2 linked regions of the Homo sapiens genome follow. The protein of the gene in region 1 interacts with the protein of each later gene in a pairwise test. Each region holds a gene or a part of one and is shown in the gene's direction. Other genes may lie near its edges.

Region 1 (6,494 bases):
TGTGTGTGTGACACACTCAGCTATGGAAGAAGCCAGTGCTGTTGACCCCACTTGGGCATCTCTGTGGGACCCATGAGGTACCTTGGCCCACTTTGGTGGAGTGCAAGGCCCTGGCAGCCCGAGGGAGGCAGAGCACCAGGCTCCAACTCGGAGACCACCCAGCTCTGGGGACTTCCCAAGGCTGGGCAGAGGGGGACTCAGCCCTGGGGAAGCTCAGGGTGGGGAGGAAGCTGGAGAGAGCACTGAGCCAGCATCTCATGACTCAGCCACTTCCACCCAGTCAGCCCGGTGGCATCTCCGCTCCCCTGCTCTAAATTCCGATTCGGTGAGACTGCTGGAGGCTGAGTCAGTCCCGGCACGGCACGAGAGCTGTGTCCCAAGGGGCTCCCTGCCAGACACCCTGGCCCCCAATCAAGGCCAGGGCCAGGCACGGGGCTGGAGAGGTGGCGGGGTGCAGGAGCCAGGCTCCAAGGCTACAGCAAGTCCCAGCAGAGTGGGGCGGCCCAGTGAGATCACGTAAGTGAACATGCTTTGTGAGTTATGAAAAGCTCCCTGTTTTCCTCAGTGGGCTCAGGGACCTCATTGCCCGAGGAAGGGACTGGGATGCAAGTCCTAGCTCTGCCCACCTCATCGCATGACACTGAGAAAACTCCTTTCCCCTCTTGGCTTCAATTTCCTTGACCACAGAATGGGGCCAACATCTCCCAAAGGGGTTGGGAGAATTAAATTTAATGCATATGAAAGCGCTTTGCAAACTGTCTAGTGGGCCCTATGATGGTCAGGGTGGTAGGAGAGGAGAGTATGAATGGCAGGGCTTCCAGAGAGACTACCTAGGGTTGTGCAGGTTGTTCACTGCACAAGGATGTCTAGCCTAAGGTGCTGAAATCCAGCCCATCCCATCCTCTGCTCCCCAAACCGCGTACCCCGGCCTAGGACTGCTTGGACTTGGTACCTTTCTCTAATATGCACAAATGCACCCTGAGGGCTAGCAGTGGCCCCTTAGACGTTCCTGGAGGGGTCAACCCCTGGAATTATGGGAAATCTCTGAGAAACTGATTACGGATGGAGGGGAAGTGGGGCTGGTTTTGCAGAGGTTCTTAGAGACAGTGCCTAACCTCAGCAGTGAGGCACAACTTATTGCTAGGGGCAGCTATGGGGGCCTGGCCGGGTCAAGGGGGTAGTCTCTCCTGGCCCTGCCCCTCCCTAGCAACGAAAGCAGGTAACCACCAAGACAGTATTTTAAAAAACACTCAAGACACAGACCCAAGCCGGGTTTTATTGAAATGCCAGGAGCAGGCACATGTCAAAGTAGCCAAGGAAGGGGGGACAGTGGTACAGGCTGTGTAAGTTGGCAGGGATGGGCAAGCCTCATGTCCATGGTCCTGGCATCCCCTCTGCCAGGGGATAAGTAGGCACAACTACCCTCCCCTCAAAATGGCATGCTCAGGCCAGTGGGGCCCCTACCCCTGGACCATGAAGGCTCCAAGAAGGGCTGGAAGCACTAAGTTTTCTCTCTCCTGAGGGGGAAGGAAAGAAGGGGAGATGCAGGAGGAAGGGGAGGTATAGCGGGGGATGAGCGTTCCAAGAAGTCTCTCCTTCTAGGTGTCTGCACCCAACTCATGGTGCTGGGCAGTGGAGAGGAGCAGCATTACAAAGGGAGGCTGAAGGCTCATCCCTCAGGGAACCGGAGCCCCCCAGCCTGTGGGGCTTGTGTCAGCCCTGAACAGAGGGCAGAAGTTCAAGGGGACTGAAGATGCAGGTAGTTCCCAAGTGACCTAGGAGTCCCCAGAGCTGGGGGGTGTGGCCTTCATAGGACAAGGAGGAAGACAGGAGGATCCAACCCCAGCATGGAGGGGGGAGTGGGCAGTCTCCCCAATTTGGCCCCCCTAGGTCAGTTCCACGTTGTTGGCACGGTCAAGCACTCGGGAGCCACGGGCACTACCCCCAAGCTGGAAACGGCTCTCATAGAGAGTGGGGCAGAGGTGCCAGCGATTGGCCCGGTAGATGCCCAGGTAGGTGTAGACATCAGGCTTGTAGGTGAGCAGGCACTTAATGCCCGCTGCACGGATGGCTGAATCCGCCTCCAGTACACCCAAGCGGTCCGTGAAGTCGTCCGTGTAAACACAGATGACCTGGCGCCCACCCTCCTTGGCACGTGGGCTCACCTTGGCCACCTGAAGCTGGCCTTCAACCACGGCCCGGGCAATGCCAGCCCAGGCGTGGTCCAGCTTGAAGCCCGGTGCCAGATGCATAAGCCACTTGCCCGAGAGCACGTGGTGGGTGATGGCGAGCTGGCGCAGGGTACCCGGTGTGATGGGCCGCCCACTGGTCTGCAGAGCTTCCCAGGCTGCCTGCAGGCCCTGCACGTCCCCGGAGTTGGGGCTGTAGCCCTGCCCATACACTGCAATCCAGCCCACAGGCTCTGAGTTGGGTGAACCGGGGTCCCCATAGCGGGTAACTTGGGATGGTGGGTACTTGGCCAGCCAGGCATCCAGCTCAGTGGCAGGCGTTGTGCGGGCATCAAACACTAGCCAGGGGTCCATGTCAGCTGCCATGGCCTCTGCAGCCAGGTGCTCGGCGGTGAAGCCATCCTCACGGCCACCTGGAGAGCCCTCCTCTTCCAGCTCCTCACCTGGTTCCATCCTGCTGTGAGGGAACCGAGTCAGGGCAGGGTCTGAGACAATAACTACAGATGCCAGGCACTGGATTAAACTGTGGCCTTGAGTAAGAGTTACTGTCGATGCGCCTCAGTTGCCTCATCTTTACAATGGGATAACAACTGTTCCTGTCCCGTAGATCTGCTATGAAAATTAGATGCCTGAGGAGTCAGCGCTCCAGAAGGGTTGCTGCAGTTATTACTATTCTCCTTGACTTACAGAAAAGGAAACTGAGGCTGAGAAAAAGGACTTGCCCAAGGTCACACCTGCAGTGCGTGGCAGGGCCGAAGGGTGAATCCAGGCGTGGGAGCAACCAGCCCCAGCTACACCTCCCGGCCCTGCCAAGGCCCCCTTTTCCTGGCAGGTATCCGGTGCGCTGGCATTTAATAGAGGAACGCAAAGAAGCGCACGTTCGCGCAGCTCCCGAGGCCGGCTCTGTAAGGCCAGGCCTCCCAGGCAGGCGTTATCGGGCCCACTTACAGACGAGGACGCTGAAGTCCAGAGAGGTTACAGGCCGTTCCGAGGCCAATGGGGCGGTTCCCAGACTCGAACCAGGGCTTGTTAGAGCCTGCAGGAGAGCCAGGCTCCGGCCGTGCCGCGCCCGCCGCCATTAACGCCCACGGGCCCGAGCTGTGCTCCCGCCCCGGCCCTGCCCTGCCCCTCCCGCCGCCCGCAGTCACCTCCGGCCTTCGCTGCGTTCGACGCCGGCCCAGCCCCGGGCCCGGCTCCGCTCCTGCCGTGGCTCCGCGCCACCGCCACCGCGCCCCACCCCCGCCACGGCCGCCGCCGCCGCCGCCGCCATCTTAGCGCCGCGCCACCTCAACAACAACTTTATAGACAGGCGCAGCCACAGGGCGGAGCCGCGGGCCTCAGCGGCCGCAGCGGCCGCGCTGTGGGGCGGGGCCGGCAGGGGAAGGGGCGGGGCCGACGGGGAGGTGCTGACTCGGGGGCGGGGCCATCGCGGGAACCCCGGGAGGGGCGGGCCGCGGGGGGCGGGGCCAACGTTCGCTCTTCTGGCCTTGGGGGCGGGCGGGAGCGGCGGTCCAGACTGGGGAGGGACGCGCACCGGCCAGGAGGCTTCAAGAGGAGGGCACTAGGGCCCTGCGAGCGGCGTCTTAACCGGCGGCGCTAGGACTCCGCGGGAAACGGCGGGGGCGGAGCGGGCGGCACCAGGACCCAGGGGAACCGCGACGGGCGGGCGGCGAGCAGGCCCGGGAGCCGGGAGGCTGCGGGCGGCGGCGCTGGACCCGACGCGGCGAGAGAGGCCCCGAGATGCCGAGCAAGAAGAAGAAGTACAACGCGCGGTTCCCGCCGGTGAGCACGTGGCAGAGCCCGGCAGGAGTGGGCCCGGCTCCCGGGTGGCTTGGGCCCAGTTCCCGCTGGGCAGGCGGGCGCGCCGCGGTGTTCGGGGGCCTGGACGCCCCGCCCCCTCCATGCCCTCCCCGCGTCCGTGTCCCCCGCCCCCTTTCTCCGGGGATGCCCCTTCCTCCCCCAGCACCCCCTTAGGGGACGGTGGCGACGGGGTCTGAACTCTGCTCCCCCACCCGCAGGCGCGGATCAAGAAGATCATGCAGACGGACGAAGAGATTGGGAAGGTGGCGGCGGCGGTGCCTGTCATCATCTGTATCCTGCCGGGGGCGGACCGGGTCGAGGGGCGTGGGGGAGGGAGGCAGCGGGTCGCCCTCTCCTGCCCCGGAGTTCTCCTTGACGCTCCTCAGCCCGGGCGCTCGAGCTCTTCCTAGAGTCGCTGTTGAAGAAGGCCTGCCAGGTGACCCAGTCGCGGAACGCGAAGACCATGACCACATCCCACCTGTGAGCGGCGAGGAGCCGGGAGGGGCCGGCGGGTTTGGCGCGGGGAGTTCACACACTGAGGAAGGCAGAGCCTGGGTGGCGAGGGAGGTGGGCGGCAGCCGGGACACCAGCAAGGCCACAGACTGGCAGAGGAGAGGCTGGGCTTCCAGGCAGAGGGAGCCACCTGAGTAAAGCAGGGCAGGCCCGGGAGCGGAGATCGGCCCGGGCTCCAGCCTGACATCTGGGGCCCCTTGCTGCCACCCACTGCGGGTTTGGGTGTCTGGGCCCCTCTTGAGTGCCAGCCCCTCCTCACCTCTTCCAGGAAGCAGTGCATCGAGCTGGAGCAGCAGTTTGACTTCTTGAAGGACCTGGTGGCATCTGTTCCCGACATGCAGGGGGACGGGGAAGACAACCACATGGATGGGGACAAGGGCGCCCGCAGGTGGGGCCAGGGCCTGGCATACAGTGGGGAAGGCCAAGGCCACAGGGCTTGGGGGTGGCCAAGGAGTAGGGAGCACTCCGGGCAGATGGACTGTACCTTCCCAAAGGGGCCGGAAGCCAGGCAGCGGCGGCCGGAAGAACGGTGGGATGGGAACGAAAAGCAAGGACAAGAAGCTGTCCGGGACAGACTCGGAGCAGGAGGTGAGTGAGGCCCCAGCCCTTCGCCCTGCCCTTGGTGATGGGACAGGCAGCCTCGCCCCAGGCTGAACTGGCAGGAGGCCAGCTCTCATCCTTTTCTGCAACCTGTTTGCTCACTGGTTTATTTGTAAATTGGGGCTATGAGGGTCTACTGCTGTCCCTGCCACTCCCAGTGATGGGTTCGTGTCTTTTCTTGTCAACTCTGACCTCTGCGGTGCTCACAGGATGAATCTGAGGACACAGATACTGATGGGGAAGAGGAGACATCACAACCCCCACCCCAGGCCAGCCACCCCTCTGCCCACTTTCAGAGGTGAGCAGCCCAGAGGCATGGGAGGGTGCTGGCAGACTCCCCAGAGCCAACTTACCCCTCTTGTTCTCCCTGGCCCCTTGGTCTTGTTGATTGTGGCAGATTTGTGGGGTGGAAGGAGAATAACTGAGGAGGGCTTGAAGGCAGGAGACTGTTCTCCCGAAAGATCCTGCTCCACCCTGCCAGGGCCCGTGGGTGGGGCCTGGGCCTGCCCTGCGTGAGCTGCCCTGGGCCTTGGCCGCATGGATCTGGAGGGTGGTGGTGGGAGGGTCAGATGGGGGAGGGAGGGTCTTGGCAGCTGCCCCTGTGGAGGGCACGGTGGGGCTCAGGCCTGACTCTCTCCTGCCTTCTGCCCTGCAGCCCCCCGACACCCTTCCTGCCCTTCGCCTCTACTCTGCCTTTGCCCCCAGCGCCCCCGGGCCCCTCAGCACCTGATGAAGAGGACGAAGAAGATTACGACTCCTAGCGCCTTCTGCCCCCCAGACCATAGCCCCTTTTAGTTGGTTTTAGTTGCTCTGGGGGGAGGAGAGAAGGTAGAGCTGTTCTTAAATTTATTAAAAAAAAAAATAAAAGGGAATCTCAGTGTCTGTTCCAGGCTCTGCGCAGGACGTCATGGTTGCCATCCCATCCACCCACCTGCCTTCCCCACATGAAACTGGGAGCTGGGGCCGGGTGCGGTGGCTCACGCCTGTAATCCCAACACTTTGGGAGGCTGAGGCGGGCAGATCACCTGAGGTCAAGAGTTCAAGACCAGCCTGGCCAACATGGTGAAACCCCGTCTCTACTAAAAATACAAAAATTAGCTGGGTGTGGTGGTGCATGCCTGTAATCCCAGCTACTAGGGAGGCTGAGGCAGGAGAATCGCTTGAACCTGGGAGGTGGAGGTGGCAGTGAGCTGAGATCACGCCACTGCACTCCAACCTGGGCAGCAGAGTGAGACTCCATGTCAAAAAAAAAAAAAAAAGAAACTGGGAGCTGGGGCCGCGTCAGTGGCAGGTGAGGTGGCAGCGAGGGGAGAGAGGGGTCATCCGGGGAGGCTGGAGGCCCTGGGTCTGCTGAGTGCACCACAGCTGCGGACAGAAGGGAGTTGGGAGAGC
Region 2 (7,777 bases), on another chromosome or scaffold:
GTGGGAAGAGACAGACAATAAATCATAAACATAACAAATAAGGAAACTATATAATATGTTAGAGGGTTATAGCTGAGTGGGGGTAGGGAGTTGGAATTGCAATTTTTAGATAAGTGATCAGGGCTGGCCCCATTAAGACATGGAAGGAGGTGAGGGAGTGAGCTATGTGGCTATCTGAGGGAGAATGTACTAGGCAGATGGAACAGCCAGTGCAGAGCCCCTGAGGCAGGAGCATTCCTGGCAGAAATAAGGACTGCAAGGAGTGCAATTAGCAAAGGAAAAGGTAGGAGGAGATGAGGGTAGAGGGGGAGCGGAAAGGGAATAGATCAAAGATCCCATAGGTTGTTGCCCAGTGAAGAGGCCACCATTCACGTCTGCAACAATTAAGTGCTGAACATATTTCTTGCTAACCAGAGGACAGCAGTACTTGTAAGACAGTGTCTCTGAACAAAGGAATCTGTGAATCTTATACAGTGTTTTGGGAAGCATGGGGTTCGGAGGTTGGGGAACTCTTAGAAGCTGGACTGTTTAGAGATGAGTTGAACTTTAGATGTGGAAGAAGGATTACTAGAGTGTGGCTGTTGCTGATTGGCTAATTTTCAGAAGCAAGTCACTGATCAGGAGATTGTTATTGATTGATTAAAACAGATTCTGGTTGTTTCTTGTCACTATGACCAAAGAACAATCAGTATCTTTTTGTTGCTCAATTTGGAATGAAGGAACTTGCCACTCTGTCTTACAAGGCCACTGGAAAGTCTTTGTCTTTTACTTTGAGAGAAATGAGGAGTTAATAGGGGATTTTTGAGCAGTGGAGTGACAGGATTTGACTTATATTTTCAGAGGATCTGAAATCTTGGCTGCTGTGTACCAGAGTGGAAGAGGGGAGACAAGTCACTGCAGTCACCCTGATGAGAGATGTATTAGGTTGTTGTTGCATTCCTGTAAAGAAATACCTGAGACTATGTAATTTATACAAAAAGAGGTTTAATTGGCTCACGGTTCTCCAGGCTGTATAGGAACCATAAGGCTGGCATCTGCTTCTGGGGAGGCCTCAGGAAGCTTCCAATCATGGTGGAAGGCAGAATGGGAGCAGGAACTTCACAAGGCAAAATCAGGAGCAAGAGGGAGAGGGGGAGGTGCTACACACTTTTAAACCACCACATCCCAAGAGAACTCACTCAGTATCTCGAGGACAGCATCCAGGGGATGATGCTCAACCATTCATGAGAAAGCTACCCCCATGATCCAATTATCTCCCACCAGGCCACACCTCCAACACCGGGGATTACATTTCAACATGAGATTTGGCTAGAACATCCAAATCCTTTCAGGAGATGTGACTTGAACCATGGTGGTAGTAGTATGGGCAATGAGAAGTGTTTTCTCCCTTTTTTTTTTTTGAGACAGAGTCTTGCTCTGTCACTCAGGCTGGAGTGCAGTGATGCAATCTCAGCTCACTGCAGCGTCCACTTCCCGGGTTCAAGTGATTCTCCCATCTCAGCCTCCTGAGTAGCTGGGACTACCAGCATGCAGCACCATGCCCAGATAATTTTTGTACTTTTTGTAGAGACAGGGTTTCACCATGTTGGCCAGGCGGGTCTCAAACTCCTGAGCTCAAGCAGTCCACCCTCCTCAGCCTCCCAAAATGCTTGGATTACAGGCATAAGCCACTGAGCCTGGCCTGTTTCCATTTTAGATATATGTACTTATAGCCAACAAATAAACAAGATAATCCAGTTAGGCTAAGGGTATTGGAGCAAATATCATATTTACTTTTACATAGAATAATATAGCTGGATGACAGGATAGAGAGTAACTGGGCGGGGCTACTTAAGAAGAAGGGATCAGGGAAGTCCCTCATTGAAGGGGCAAGACCTCAGTGATGAAAAGAAGCCAGTGAGGATCTTAAGGCTGGTGCGTGTGTGAGGAGCAATGCATAGGCCAGTGGGTCTAGAAGGTGGTGAGGTCAGGGTTGAGGAAGAGCCACAAGCCGGGTGGGAGAGGGAAGCTGAAGCCAGATCCTTCTAGGCCTCAGTGCATAGAATGGATTGAGAAGAGTGGAGCAAGAGAAGAATCAGGAAGGTGGAAGTGGAGACAATATTCTACTAGACCCTGTCCTCATGGGAATTTTACGAGACCTCATTGAAGTGATGAAGTAAAAACTGTGAAGTCTTCATGGGGCCAGGGATTCTGTTTCATTGTTTGCTTAATTATGACGCCTAGAGAAATGGCGATATGAACTAACTGGCAGCTGTGGTGTACAGACTCGAAATAAAGACACTCAATTACCTGTCTCTGACTTTGAATGCAAAGACTAGGTTAGCTGCAGTGTTTTTTCCAAGACTAAATTATGATCTTGGCCTTCCTCTTTCACCAAGTCATCAGAAAAGTGGTTAACATTTATTGGGGGCTTCCTGAAATAGATACAGAAGAAACAGAGAACACAGGTTGGTTGTTAAGGCAGGATGACCTAGGATCCAACTGCAGAGGGGATGTGGACCGGGTTCCATTTCTCCTAGAGTTCTGGCTCCTCAGGGTAAGGAGAGTGATTCATTCACCTTTGTAGCCCTTGGGCTCCTAGTACAATGCCTGCAGAATGTAGGAGCTGATATTACCTTTTAGTGGAATTTGAATTAAGCACATAGTTTAGATCCACAGTACTGAAATGATAAACTATTAACTCAGAAAAGTAGTCATCTTCGCATCTTTTGGTTCACCATCCAGAATTGGGAGAAGGATTAGTCATCTTTCTCCCAATTCTTTTTTTTTTTTTTTTTTCCTTTTTTGAGACAGAGTTTCATTCTTGTCGCCCAGGCTGGAGTGCAATGGCGCGATCTCAGCTCACCGCAACCTCCGCCTCCTGGGTTCAAGTGATTCTCCTGTCTCAGCCTCTCGAGTAGCTGGGATTACAGGCATGCGCCACCACGCCCGGCTAATTTTGTATTTTTTAGTACAGACGGGGTTTCTCCATGTTGGTCAGGCTGGTCTCGAATTCCTGACCTCAGGTGATCGGCCTGCCTTGGCTTCCCAAAGTGCTGGGATTACAGGCGTGAGCCACCATGCCCAGCCCCTTCTCCCAATTCTATTACTTTATATTTCCTGCCTTTGAACCTTTGAACACATCATTTCACTCCTTAATCTCCACTTTATGGGTAAGCATAGAGAAAGGGAGAAATTAAACTCAGGCCAATTTTTCCTTTTTTTTTTCTAAGCAAATAACACCTTTTAAATGTTTGATGGAGATTGAAGAAATTCATGCTATATAAAGATCTTAGGATAACTTTTTTTTTTTTTTTTTTTGAGATGGAGTCTTGCTCTGTCGCCTAGGCTGGAGTGCAATGGTGTGATCTCGGCTCACTGCAACCTCTGCCTCCCGGGTTCAAGCGATTCTCCTGCCTCAGCCTCCTGAGTAGTTGGGATTACAGGCGCCCACCACCACGCCCGGCTAATTTTTGTATTTTTAGTAGAGACGGGGTTTCGCCATGTTGGTCAGGCTGGTCTCGAACTCCTGACCTCAGGTGATCGGCCTGCTTCGGCCTCCCAAAGTGCTGGGATAACTTTTTTTTTTTAAAGGGCTTTCTATGTATACATTATCCCAAACAACCCTGAGAAGCAGACATTTGGCCAAGATCACAAGCCTGTAAGAAGGGGAGTTGGAATTCAAGTCAGGTTGTCTGATGACAGTGGCATTGCTACTTACTCCTCTTGTCACAATTTGGGGCTTTCATTTGTCTTTTCTTCCATACTTGCCGCAGAAATGTTTAAATACTCTGAGAAACAGTAGGAACTCTATAAATAAAAGATCTCTGTATTTTTACATAATCAAAGCTGGAGAGTTTAATGTGGTGCAGGCCACTCGGTTAGTGGAAGCAGAGGGCATGCCATCCCCAGCTCCGGTTGCAGTGAGTGGATCCAGTGTTGGATTACCCACCTCTGGGATGGTCACTGCTAAGCGAAGCTGAACTCAGGACTGCAGTTTGAGAAAGACAGCGAAGGAGCTTGGCTGCACAGAGGCAAGAACGGGCCACGGATTCTTGCAGCCAAAATGTCATCTGGTTGGGAAAAGCCGCTTGTCAATCTGCAGCTACTAGAGGGGTGGGGGTGGGTGGAAAATGCAGCATCTTAAGTTCAAGATTCAGGGTGAAGGCTGGCTAGACTTAGCAGGGGTCTGCATCTTTAGATGAAATGTGAAAAACACCCAAGCTCAGGGACCAAATGACAGGGAGCGCTGTGCATGCGGCGACGCTAACAGGGACCCAAGGAAAGAAAACACGAGGCGCTGAAGGCGCTCCAGGAGGCCCCCGCCGTTCAGACCCTCCCGGTGGCTCGGGCGCGTCGTCCTAGGGGGCGGCTTCTGTCCTTGGTTTCCCCTTCTTAAAAATCCAGGCGCAGGCAGGCTGAGCTCAGGCGGCTGAGGCACCTCCACGTGGCGGGGGAAGGGGTGACAAAGAGAGGGACGCCCGAGAGATCCCGCTTCGCACAGGCCCGGGTCAGCACCGGGAAGGAGGCCCGCCTAGACCCGAACGGCGCGCCCGGGCAGGGCCCTGGAAGACCTCGCGCCTAGAGGAGCGGCATCCGGAGCGGCGCGGAGGCCTCACAGGAACGCGGGACTGGGCCGGGGGCGGGGCGGGGCCGGGGGCGGGGCGGGGCGGGGCGGGGCCGCGGCGGGCGGGCGCGCGGGCGGCGCGGAGGGAGGGTGTCGCGCCGAGGGAAGCGGCCCGCGGCGGAGGGAGGGGAGGCCGAGTCCTGGAAGCGGAGCTCCGCGCTGGGACTGGTTCCTTCGCAGCCATTTTCTGTCCAACCAAACAGCCGATTGGAGACGGGAGCCAACCAGGGCTGCATTGGAGGTTTGTGTCTCGCTTCGGCCAATGATCGCTCCTAAACCGACTCCACTTTAGCTCGAATGAAATGTCCGTCTCCTCCCGGCGCCGTCCCCGCCGCCAACGCCGCCGCGGCCGGGGGCACTAGCCTCCCGCCCTCCCGCGCGGGCCGAGGCCGGGCCCCGCGCCTGCGAGGCCGCTCCCGCAGCGGGCCGGGCCGGGGAGCGGGCGCGGGGCCGCGGCGCGGCTCTTTGTGCGCCGGGCTGAGGAGCGGCGGGACGCGGGCCAGGCCACCTCACCCTCGCCGCCGTTGAGCTCCGGGCCCGGGGCCGAGGAGGGGCCGCGGGGCTGCGTCGGGGCCCCGCTCTCGACGGCGTCCCGGGCCGGCTCCATTTTGTGCGGGGAGCCGGCCGAGGGGCGGGAGACGCGGCCCGGGCCCTGGCCCCGTAGCCCCGGCGGCGGCGCGAGTCCCCGGGGGCGCCCTCCTCCCGCCCGCGGGGCTGTGGCGGGGCCCGGCGCTTTGTCTGCCCGCACATCCCGGGGGCCGCGCGGCGGGTGGGAGGCAGGCGTTGGGCGCGGGGCCGGGGCGGCCGGGCGAGTCAGGGGATGCGCTCTGGGGGCGGCCTCCTGGCACTCGCAGGGCTGACAGGTCGCCGGGACCAGGCCGTGGGGCCGGGGCCACCCAGGCACCTGCGTGGGGAGGAAGGCATGGCTTTAGCTTCCCCGCAGCCTGGTTTGCGCGTAAAGAATGCAGCCATCTGGCGGTTTGCGGTCCCTGTACTTGCCCCGAAGGTGGGAAGGAAGCCCTTCGGATTGGACTAAGGTTTTAATCATTAGTGGTGGGAGGCGGGAGGATATGCAGGGCCTTAAAGAACGGTAGTCTTAGAGAACAAAGAATTACAGAGCACCCACAAATCGTAATCTCGCCCAAAGCACTCTAACAGGATAATTTAAACAAGGTTAGGTAGCCTGCGACCTTTAAAAAAATGGCATCCCACTAACCCGCATGGACCCCATAGTTGCGTGGTTCGTGCTACAAATCACTGGGGTGGTTTCATCTCTCTTAGTATGGAAACTAATCAGCAACATAAAGTGATGAAAGCAAACGGATCAATATCAGTGGCACTAATCAGTGGGGGGTTTATTTGTAAAGTATTGAAAGTTTAACCAAAATTCCTTAAAAGGCAAATTATTCCTTCCCTGCATTGCTCTTGTATCTTAATTTAAGGATTACTGTATATTGATGCAAAACTCTGGTTGTTGATGCCAAAGAATGGAGGGTGGAGGAAGGGACTACTGCTTTTCTTGGATACAAATTTGCATTTCTTAAAACATTAAACAGATGTATGCATTCCCTTGAGCTTTTACATATATCAACCTGCCCTTAAGAAAATATACACCATATGAGGTGACAGTGTTTTTCTTTAATGTACTGAGTCTAAATATATACTGAATCAACTATTTGGGTGAGTGAGTGTGGTGTGGTATGACTCCCTGCCCACACCCCCCTCTCCCATTCCAAGCAAAATACATAAATATAGCTCCCATGTTTTAAGTGTTCTGAGGGCTTATTTTTTCAAAGACACTCTTTAAAAAATAACATTTCTCGTTACAAGGAAGGACTTTTCTGAGCAGTTTTGGGGTTAGAGGATACTATTAATATTTGAAAAGAAATTATAAATTACTTTTAATATTATAGCAAACGTCAAGCAGTTTTTGCTACCTGGACCTTTTTAGTGGCATTAAAAACTTTCAATTCAGTGGCTACAATTTTTTCTGCTATTTGCTAGATTTCATGCTTGGATGCGTATCAGTATATCTTCTCCCTTTAAAATTAACACTGAAAGGATGTGTTTTTGTTTTGGCATCCTACCCCTCCCCCATTTAATTGTTTCCTTTGAGAAAGAATGGAGCAAATGAGAAATGAAACTTGTAACACAGCAATTGGTACTAATTTGTTCAGCTATTTATGCCTTACAGTGAGACTGAAGTGCTATTTCGATGCAATTTTAGTCAAAAATGGTGGTGCTTCAAAATTATAAATAAGGGTCTTGATTGTGTTGCTTTTTTGATATCTTCTCAGTGCAGAATGTATCTTCATTACAGTATAATCTGAGATTCTTAATTGAAAAGCATTATATTCTCAGATAATTTTTTCCTCCTCTTGAGCTATAGAATGTCTAAATGTTACTCTGAAACATTTAAGAAAACCATCACCAAAAAATTAAGATGATAAGGGGTGTGTTTGCATCTTGAGTGTTAATGTTTTAAGTAATTTAGATGTATAATTTTTGGTCTCTTGCATATTATATAATTTGGTCCCTTTTTGGTGTATTGTAATGAATGTTTATGATGAATATGGCTAAATTCAGGGTTATGTTGGAAAATCCATTTTCTCCTTTCCCCATGGAATTAACTTGTTTTTAAGTTCTCCAAAATAAATCTTTCAAGTCAACAAACATTTATTGGGTGCCTTTTTATACTATTTTATACCATGTACTCCATTGATTAAGAATAGTAGTCAAAATTATACAAGCCCTCTTTAATTTTATGAGAAAAAAAGCCTATAAGTGATACATTTGATGTATTTTTACTATTGATAGATGTTAGGTCCTAATAGATGTTTATCTTTTAGGTTGAAATCACAAAGATTAGACACCTTTTTAGATAGGTGTTCTTCAGCACCACTGACAACACGGTTCTGACAGTATTTCATGACAGTAAGTATATTTTACCATTTTGGTTGTTAATTAGATTTGAATAGTAATTGGCTGGAAATAAAATTGTAACCAATTTATACTGGAGGTGCCTGGTAGAATGAATGCATTTCAAGTCTAGACAGACAGTACCTCTGCTCATTCCTGTTGCTTCCTTATTTTCAGCTTCTTGCATATATTATTTCCCATGGGTCCCTAAGTGCTGTTGAGGCTACAGGGTAGCCTGTCCCAGCTGTAAAG

The links.
Region 2: the proteins of DRAP1 (region 1) and NFYB interact in binary tests that used the Homo sapiens proteins (3 or more experiments, as listed by UniProt).

What each region holds. Positions count from the first base shown.
Region 1 is NC_000011.10:65,915,573-65,922,066, forward strand, and holds DRAP1 (dr1-associated corepressor), read left to right. Parts: upstream 1-3,853; 5' UTR 3,854-3,929; coding exon 3,930-3,971; intron 3,972-4,207; coding exon 4,208-4,280; intron 4,281-4,375; coding exon 4,376-4,469; intron 4,470-4,770; coding exon 4,771-4,890; intron 4,891-4,996; coding exon 4,997-5,090; intron 5,091-5,311; coding exon 5,312-5,400; intron 5,401-5,757; coding exon 5,758-5,863; 3' UTR 5,864-5,991; downstream 5,992-6,494. Other genes in the region: UPF0696 protein C11orf68, read right to left, coding at 1,887-2,646, 3,338-3,459. UniProt on the Homo sapiens protein: The association of the DR1/DRAP1 heterodimer with TBP results in a functional repression of both activated and basal transcription of class II genes.
Region 2 is NC_000012.12:104,135,211-104,142,987, reverse strand, and holds the start of NFYB (nuclear transcription factor Y subunit beta), read left to right. Parts: upstream 1-4,777; 5' UTR 4,778-4,847; exon of another isoform or gene 4,848-5,779; intron 5,780-7,455; 5' UTR 7,456-7,534; coding exon 7,535-7,540; exon of another isoform or gene 7,541-7,544; intron 7,545-7,777. UniProt on the Homo sapiens protein: Component of the sequence-specific heterotrimeric transcription factor (NF-Y) which specifically recognizes a 5'-CCAAT-3' box motif found in the promoters of its target genes.